2 separate regions of the Homo sapiens genome follow, and region 2 is linked to region 1. Evidence: fine-mapped expression QTL. Tissue or cell type: whole blood. Region 1 holds a variant in brackets; the other region holds the start of a gene. All regions are shown on one strand. Distances are from middle to middle.

Region 1 (4,158 bases):
GTGGTCCATGCGGCCCCCGAGGGCATAGATGCGGCCGCCGGCACCCACCATGGCGTGTAGCACGCGGGGTTCGCTCATGGGCGCCTTGAACTCCCACTGGTCGGCCACGGGGTCGTAGCAGTGCAGGGCCTTCTTGTCCTCCACTGAGATCCCGTAGCCACCCGAGATGTAGAGGCGGCCCCCTGAGGCGGCCCCAGCATGGCCCCAGGTACGGCGCTTCAGCGAGCAGGCGTAGCCCCACTCATTGCGCCGGGGGCAGTACCGCTCCACGGAGGCCAGGCTGCCGGCTCGGTTGCGGCCGCCCGTGGCGTACACCATGCCGCACAGCACGTTCAGCTGGAACTGGATGCGGCTTTCCTGCATGGCCTGCAGGCGCAGCCAGCGATTCAGGTGGGGGTCGTAGCGGTAGCAGGCGTCCACTGCGCCCTCGCCGCTGCGGTACTGCAGGTGCTGCCCCCCGGCCACGTACACAAAATTGTCCAGCACGGCCACGCACGTGTGGCTGCAGCCTACCTCCATCTCCGTGAGCTCGCGGAAGTGGCGGGCTCCCGGCTCAGGCAGCTGGTAGACCTTGCTGCTGACCGAGCGGTCGCTGTCGGTGTAGGGCGTGCCGCCGAAGGTGACGAGCGAGGGCACATCCGAGCGCACGGCGGTGCGCGGAGACTGCATCTCGTGCTGCCGGAAGGGCAGCACCTGGTAGTTGAAGGCCTCCAGCAGATACTGGCGGCACAGCACGTCCTCCACCATGATGTCCAGCGTCTGCACGCTGTCCACCAGCTCGGACGACTGCATGAGCGGGAAGCGAATGTGGCAGAGCACGTGGCTGGCGCGCGGCCGCCGGGCCGGGTCATGCTGCAGCCAGCGGACGGCCGCGCGGAACAGGTCGATCTCGGCACAGCTCTGCAGCCGGTTGCTCTGCAGGAAGAAGACCAGGCGCTCCAGTGGCAGGCGCAGGAAATCCTCCTCCTCGGCGATCTGCAGGAAGTGCCGGAAGGTGAAGGCATCCACCGACTCTCGCAGCGAGGCCAGGCTGAAGGTGGTGGCCATCTGGCCGATGTTGAGGCAGGTCTCCACGCTCATGGCCGCCTTCAGGAACTCCTCGCACAGCTCCACCACGGGCAGCATCTGCAAGAACACGGCCGCGCCCAGCACGTCCTGCACGCAGTCCAGGTCCAGTGTCACCTCGGCGCTGTAGGCGAAGTCGATGATGTGCCGCAGGCCACGGGCCGACACGCCCTTCAGCTCGATGACGTCCTGGCTTGCCTCCCGCATGCCGCCGGTGAACATGGCCCTGAAGGGCAGAAACACAACGTGTGGCTGGCAGTGGCTGAGGGGTGTTTTGGCCAGCCAGGAATGATCTGGCCTGGGGAACAGTAGCCTGGGGACACAGAACACAGGGCACAGCCAGCAAGAGGAAAGTAGGCGGAATGCTCATTAAAAACATGCAAAGGGGCCGGGCGCGGTGGCTCATGCCTGTAATCCCAGCACTTTGGGAAGCCCAGGCGGGTGGATCATGAGATCAGGAGATCGAGACCACTGGCACTGCACTCCAGCCTGGGTGACAGAGTGAGACTCAGTCACAAAAACAAACAAACAAACAAACAAACAAAAACATGCAAAGGCCAGGCACAGTGGCTCACGCCTGTAATCCTAGCACTTTGGGAGGCCGAGGTGGGTGGATCACCTGATGTCAGGAGTTCAAGACCAACCTGGAGGTTGCAGTGAGCCGAGATCATGCTGCACTGCAGCCTGGACAATAAGAGTGAGACTCTGTCTCAAACAAACAAAAAAAACATGCAAAAAAAAAAAAAGATTTTGAATCCACCCAAGCCATGCATCTTCCTATAAATAGCAACTCCCTGCTTGGCCCCTCTGCAGAGGACCCTGCCCCTGCCCCTTCATGACTAGATCGTGTTGGAGCTGCAGGAGCGGTGGCCCGGGTCAGCCTCACCCACAATGTGCCTGTCGGGGGTGCGGTTAGAGGGGCCAGGTATGGCAGTGCAGGATGAGAACACACCCTGTGGCTCTGGGGACAGATCTGCAGCCCCACTTGACACCTGAGCTCAGGAACTGCAAGGCCAGTGCTCTGGAGGTGCC[A/G]TGCACCACAGTTCAACCCTCACCTTGTTCACTGACCTAAGCAGGCAGCTCTGATATGCCCAGCCTGAGTCTCAACAACCATCATGTGAAGAGGGGAAGGTAATGAGGGTCCCCAGGAATGGAGCCCCCACCAGGAGGCTGTGCTGGGGTGACTGCTGTCTCCAGAGACAGGCTCAGGTGGTCGGGGAAGCACCTCCCACCCAACAGCTACGTCCCCAGCCTCCATTGAGACCCCAGCTCCGCCCTTGTACTGCTGTGCTCTGCGAGGCAGAACATGAGAGTGGGAGGGGACACAGGCCCCCGTGAGGGAGGGCAGCGGGGAGGCACACGGTTCTAGGTCACAGTTCCCCTACAGCGTTTAGGGTGTTCCCCAGCAGAAGAGGGGAGAGCACCCCAGCTCCAGGGGAATGGGCGGTTCCTTCCAGGAGGCGCAATGGCATGGCATAGTAACTCTCACTCCTGCCAGTGCACCTCCCCTGATGGCCGTCCGAGGAGGAGGGAACATCCCTTGTGCATTTGACCCACAGAGGCCTGTCCCCTAGTCTTGCACCTCCTGTGAGCCAGGCTCAGGGCTACAGGGGCAAGGACAGCTGCCAGGGCACTATCTCGGGGCCGCCCACTGACATCTGCCCAACAAGCAGCTCTTCAGCATCTCTGAGCGGTCCAGGAGCAGTAAGTACGCTGCCAGCTCCCCAGACCCTGCCCCGCTTGTCCCCACGGGTCCACGCTGGCCCTCGGGCATGATGCGATGAAGGCAGAGGCGGTCGCAGGCGACAGGAGGGAGCTTTGCCTTTTAAGGTCTCGCTGGCTGCAGTGCCAGCACAGGGGAGCCTTTAAAGGGCATTGCTGGCTGGGCTGGCCCACCCGTCCCCAAATCCAGAATAAAAATAGAAGCGGCGCCCCAGTTGGCTCGGCTGCTGCGGCCCCCACAACAGCCTCATTGAGCCCATGGGGCAGGCGGCCCGGGCCTCGGGGAATGTGTGGCTGAGCGGCACACCTGGGCTGGGGCCTGGGAGCCTCCCCAGGGCGGCCCAGCTCTCTCTGGCGGGGTCACCACCTGGCAGGAAGGAGGCTCACCTGCTGGTCACCCAGGGAGGGAGACCACTCAGCCCTGCAACAGCCCCCAGCTGGCGAGGAGAAAGCACCCCCCACCCCACAGCCCTGCTCTGTGGTGCTCTCACTTCCGGCCCGGCCACGGCACAGGGACAGACAGACAGTGCCCGCCATGGCCTCTTCTGTCACGTTGGGGAAGTGCCCACAGCTCAGGGAGACAGGGAGGAGAACTCATCTGGGCCTCAGACAGAGCCCAGGACATGGTGTTGGCAGACACAGGGTCTCTGCGGCCCTCGATGCCCCTCCAGTCCCCCAGCTGTCCTGCTCCAGGTGTCCTGAGGGGATGCCCTGAGGGCAGGGGCTTGTGCCCATTTCACTGTCATCCCTGCTGCATCCCAAGGACTAGAATAGTGCCTGGCATACAGCAGGCGTCAAGTAAAGACAGATTGGGCTGGGCGCAGTGGCTCACGCCTGTAATCCCAGCACTTTGGGAGGCTGAGGCAGGTGGCTCATGAGGTCAGGAAATCAAGACCATCCTGGCTAACATGGTGAAACCCCGTCTCTACTAAAAATACAAAAAATTAGCCAGGTGTGGTGGCATGCGCCTGTAGTCCCAGCTACTCGGGAGGCTGAGGCAGGAGAATCGCTTGAACCCGGGAGGCGGAGGTTGCAATGAGCCAAGATTGTGCTACTGCACTCCAGCCTGGGCGACACAGCGAGACTTTGTCTCAAAAAAAAAAAAAACAAAACAGATCAAAAACCTGGCCAAGCCCTGCCACCCTGCATGCAGGGTAGAAGTGAGTGGGTGCCCACAGGCCATCTCTGTCCCTCCAGGCATGTTCTGCCCAAAGAGAGTAAGATGCAAACTCCGGGAAACCTGCAGGTTTACTGGACATTAAACCTCTCTCTAAAATCAGAAGGGGCCCGGAGCGGTGGCTCACGCCTATAATCTCAGCACTTTGGGAGGCCAAGGCAGGCAGATCACGAAGTCAGGAGTTCAATACCAGC
Region 2 (4,158 bases), 30 kb after region 1:
AGCCATGCCCAGCATGGTGGCTCACATCTGTAATCTCAGCACTTAGTGAGGGGTGAGGCAAGAAGATTGCTTGAGCCCAAGAGTTTGAGACCAGCCTGGCAACAGAGCAAGACCTGGTCTTTACAAAAAATTTAAAAATTAGCCAAGTGTGGTGGTGCACACCTGTAGTCCCAGCTACTCAGGAGGCTGAGGTGGGAGGATCACTTGAGTCCAGGAGTTTGAGGCTGCGGTGAGCCTTGGTGGCGTCACTGCACTCCAGCCTAGATACCTGGGTGACAGAGCGAGACGGGGTTTCAAAAAAATAAAAATAAAAAAAGCCCTAGCCCCAGGTTATCCCACTCCAGTGCCCAAGGCAGGGACCTGGGGTTCACTGTCCCTCTTCCCTGTCCCTTACTTGCCAACTGATACCCAATTTTCAAGCCCTGGCCACTCCCTGAATATCTCTGAAAATCCTCTGACATCTCCTGGCTCCCTACTGCAGGACAATCTTGCCCCACACCTACCCCAGGAGGCTGGTCACCCCTCTGGACACACACCTCCTGGGTTCCCCATGGCCCCTCTGGCAGACCAGATTCAATGCCCACAGACCTAAGTCTCAAGGTGCCACTCAGCATCCTCAGGAACAGGCAGGGCCTTTGCCTCCTCTGTGCCCTGGCCCAGCCATCCCTCCTCCCTTCCCCACCCATCCCATGCGTGTTCCATTCAGTACCAAATCACACAGCCAGGCCATCAGGCCATTCCCTCCAACAATCAGCCCACAGGTCCAAAACTCCACAGCACGTAAGTATCAAACAACTTCATCATTTATCATGTTGCCTGAAATTACTGGCTCCTGGAAGCTCACCAGCAAGAAAAAGCCTGAATTTCCTCCTTGGCCTGACCTGGGTGCTGGGCTAGAGGAGGAGCTGGGGTGGGAGGGTCTGGCTTTGCCCAATAGGAAAAGAGCAGGAGATCACACTCCTAAGGCAGGTGTTCTTTCCCTCTGACAATCCAATACAATGCATGCACACACATATCATTAGTTATTGATGATAACTAATTGTCATGCAAACCTGGACGTTCAAGCAATCCATGTCAGGACTGGGCCATGGGGAAAGGGGGCCTCCCTCTGACCAAAGGGGTGAATTCTGTCCCCTTGTCTGAGGGCAAGACCTTTCTGTAAGTCCTTTAGCCTGTTGGGGATGTGGATTTGGACCCCATGGGGATGGAAGGGAGGAGCCCCAAAGAAGAACCCTCTGTATGTTCTTTATAAACCCCCTGGAGTTCTCTCACCCCCCTCAGGTTCCCTAGACCCACCCCAGGCCCCCTCAGCCTCCCCATCTCAGACTCCCAGATTCACCTAAGTCCCCCACCCAGAGCCTCCCACAGTCTCTACTCCTTCCAGCGCCCCTCAGCACGCTCTCAGGACCACCTTTAGCCACCTTGGGGCCCTTCAGCACCTCCCAGGATGCCTTGGGCCTTAGCCCCTTCCTCAGAGCCCCCAAGACACCTCACCACCCTCAGACTGGCCATGGCATGGCCCCTGCTCAGGCCCTCTCTGCTGCCCAGGCCCTTTGGCATCCCCAGTTGCCCCACGGCCCACCACAGTCAAGAGCCCCTCGGTTTCCCTTCAGACCCCCAGGATTCTCAGGTCCCTAGGGCCGCCTGCAGACGCCTCGAGGTCCTGGGGCACCCAGCCCCCCTCCAGCCACCCCCTCAGTAGCCCTCGGCTCCTCCAGTACCCCACGGCCCCGTAAAGTCCAAATTCTCAGCGAAAGACCCTCGAGCCGTGCCAGGCCTCCCCTCAACCCCTCAGGACGCCCAAGACTGCCCACAGGTTTCCTGGGCTCCAAGACAGGTGCAGGTCTATCCTGCGGGCCGGGTCTCACCTGTTCGGGCGCTCGGGGCCCGGGCCCGCGCCGAAAGCGCCGCCGCCACCAGCACCACCGCTGCTACCGCCGGACTCCGCCATCTTCCCCCCGCCGTCGCGCGTTCGAGTGACGGGAGCCGCGCGCGCAGGCCCGGGAAACCGAGACGCGGGGGGCGGGGCGGGGCCAGGTCTGCGGAGGGGCGGGGCCGGGACCAGAAACCAAGGATTGGGGCGGGCCCGGAATCGGAGGGGCGTGGTCTACGGAGGGCCGGGGCGGGTCTGGGATAAAGGGAGGGGCCTGCTATGCAGAGAGGTGGGTCCAGGGCGGGGCCTGGGCTAGGGGTGCCGGATTGGGGCGGGACCCTGGCGTGAGGGGCGGAACCAAGTCTGAAAGGGAAGCGGTTCTGGGCTGAGAGGGCGTATTGTCTGTGGATAGGTGGGGACGGGGCGAAGCAGGACAAGTAGGCGCAGGATGGGGTTGGTCCCTGGGCTGAGGAGTGGGGCGGGGTCTGAAGAAGGGGCAGGCCCAGGGCAAGAGGAGGAGGGACAAGGGTCCGGCCTGCGGAGGAGGCGGGGCGCAGGATAAAGGGCGGGGCCAGGTGTGAGAAGGGACAAGGTGGAGGTTAGGAATGCGGTGGGGGAGTGGTCGGGGAGGTAGAAAGGAGAAGATGGGTCTGAGGTTGGGCGGGTCTGGGCAGGAGAGAGGAGGAATCTGGGGATGGATGTGGTCAAGCGAAGAGAGGGCCTGGTCTGAGGAAGGGCGGGGCCTGGGCGAGGGGTGGAGTCTGGTTGGAAGGAGGGCGGGGAAGATCAGGGGTGTGTGCGTGGAGGGGGCGAGGGATTGGCGGGGCCGGGGGGGCGGAGCCTCATCTGATGGGGGTGGGGCCGGGCTAAGTGAGCGGCGGATCTGAGGAGGGGCGGGGCACGTGCAGGTGTTAAGGAGTGTCTGTGAGTGCCCTGGGGCGCTGGCAGGCGTGCCCCGGGCGTTGGCTGGGCGTGGTTATACTTTGAGGCGTTGGAGCCACAGGGAAGTGAGTTATAGGTAGGGTGGGAGGGAGGGTGAGATGGAGCATGGAGAAATGGGTCTCTAAGCTCTGAGAACCACACCCTCCCTCTCCCCACCCTGCACACCCCGACTCCAGTCTTACCTCCTTCCCAGGCCTCTCTCAGGGGCGAAACTCACCCATGCCCAGGCCTCAGACTTCCAGCCCCTCATGGTTCCCCACCCTCCCCTGACATACCCTCTTCAGAGCCTCCACCCTGAGACCCCAATCATCTGGCCTTAGGTTCCCACCACCTGCTTCATACACCAATTCTGGTTTCTCATACTCTAAAACCCTGCACATCCAATTATCTCCCATTCTCTACTCAAAACTCATCTCCCACTCCCCCAAATCCCTGCCCACAGATCCTTCAAACCTTACACTCCCAAAGTCCATTCCACCGGACCCAACACCCTCAGATCCCCAAGCACCAGCCCTCCCAACACACTGACCCTCAGCCAGGGCTCAAAGTCCTGCATCTATAGGCGTCTATGAAGCATCTAGACCTTTTGGGGGCACCCCTCACCCCCCATCTCTGGTAAGCTCCAGGCTCCCAGGATCCCCTCTGTAGCTTGGAGCTCATTTATTCTTTTAACCTCCAAGTCAGAAAACTCTGACTTGTGCAGTCTTGGGCAGAAAGCAGTGATCCAGAAGGAGCTCAAAGCCTTCTTTCCCGTCAGTGCTGGAAGAAGGAGGTGGCTATGGGGCTGGAGACCCCATAGGAGGAAGGAAGGGGCCTGCTTGAGTGGACTCCTGCAGGTTGGACCGCACTCAACCAGCATCTCCAACAGAGGGCCTGATACAACAATACGTGCTCAATCGTTACACAAAATGCTCTCAGATGACCCTGTGCAAGCTGACAGATACCAAGTGCTGAAGGGAACTGCTGGCATCTCCAATACACAGTAAGCACTCTGCAAATGTTGAATGCACGCGTGCATGAACAGCTCACGTTCCGGCAAGCTCTGCACACACACACACACACCCTTGCCTGCCCTAAGTCAGCACCGCCCCAGGAGTCTTTGTTCCAGACGAACCACATGCAGGCATCAAACCTCACTCAGCAGCGACCTACAGCTGACACACCCGCCACAAATAACATTTGAAATCAATGGTGTCCATATGCACGCACACTTCATAAACATCCAGATTTGACCCATATGTCAGACACACAAGACACACAGCTGAAGATAAGAAAGAAGAGGTTCTCTGGGCTCCTGGCTGTGCACACACACATAGTGTGCTGTAGACTCACTGCACTTTGGA

Evidence for each region. PIP is the estimated chance that this variant, and not a neighbour inherited with it, causes the effect. A credible set is the group of variants that fine-mapping cannot tell apart.
Region 2: it holds the start of KLHL26, and the variant in region 1 is the best candidate, but not a certain one, in a credible set for the expression of KLHL26 in whole blood (TOPMed, PIP 0.54).

What each region holds. Positions count from the first base shown.
Region 1 is chr19:18,664,797-18,668,954 of GRCh38, reverse strand. It overlaps KLHL26 (kelch like family member 26), which reads right to left. Exons shown (of 3, transcript NM_018316.3): 3 at 1-1,291. Among named protein-coding and RNA genes, the nearest start is that of CRTC1, 17 kb to the left of the region's middle. The variant A/G (reference allele first, on the strand shown) is at 2,098.
Region 2 is chr19:18,634,848-18,639,005 of GRCh38, reverse strand. It overlaps KLHL26 (kelch like family member 26), which reads right to left and starts at 1,978. Exons shown (of 3, transcript NM_018316.3): 1 at 1,869-1,978. The coding sequence starts at 1,951. RefSeq lists enhancers at 1,025-1,539, 1,540-2,054, 2,013-2,307 and silencers at 1,794-2,303, 2,354-2,513, 2,524-2,603, 2,644-2,833.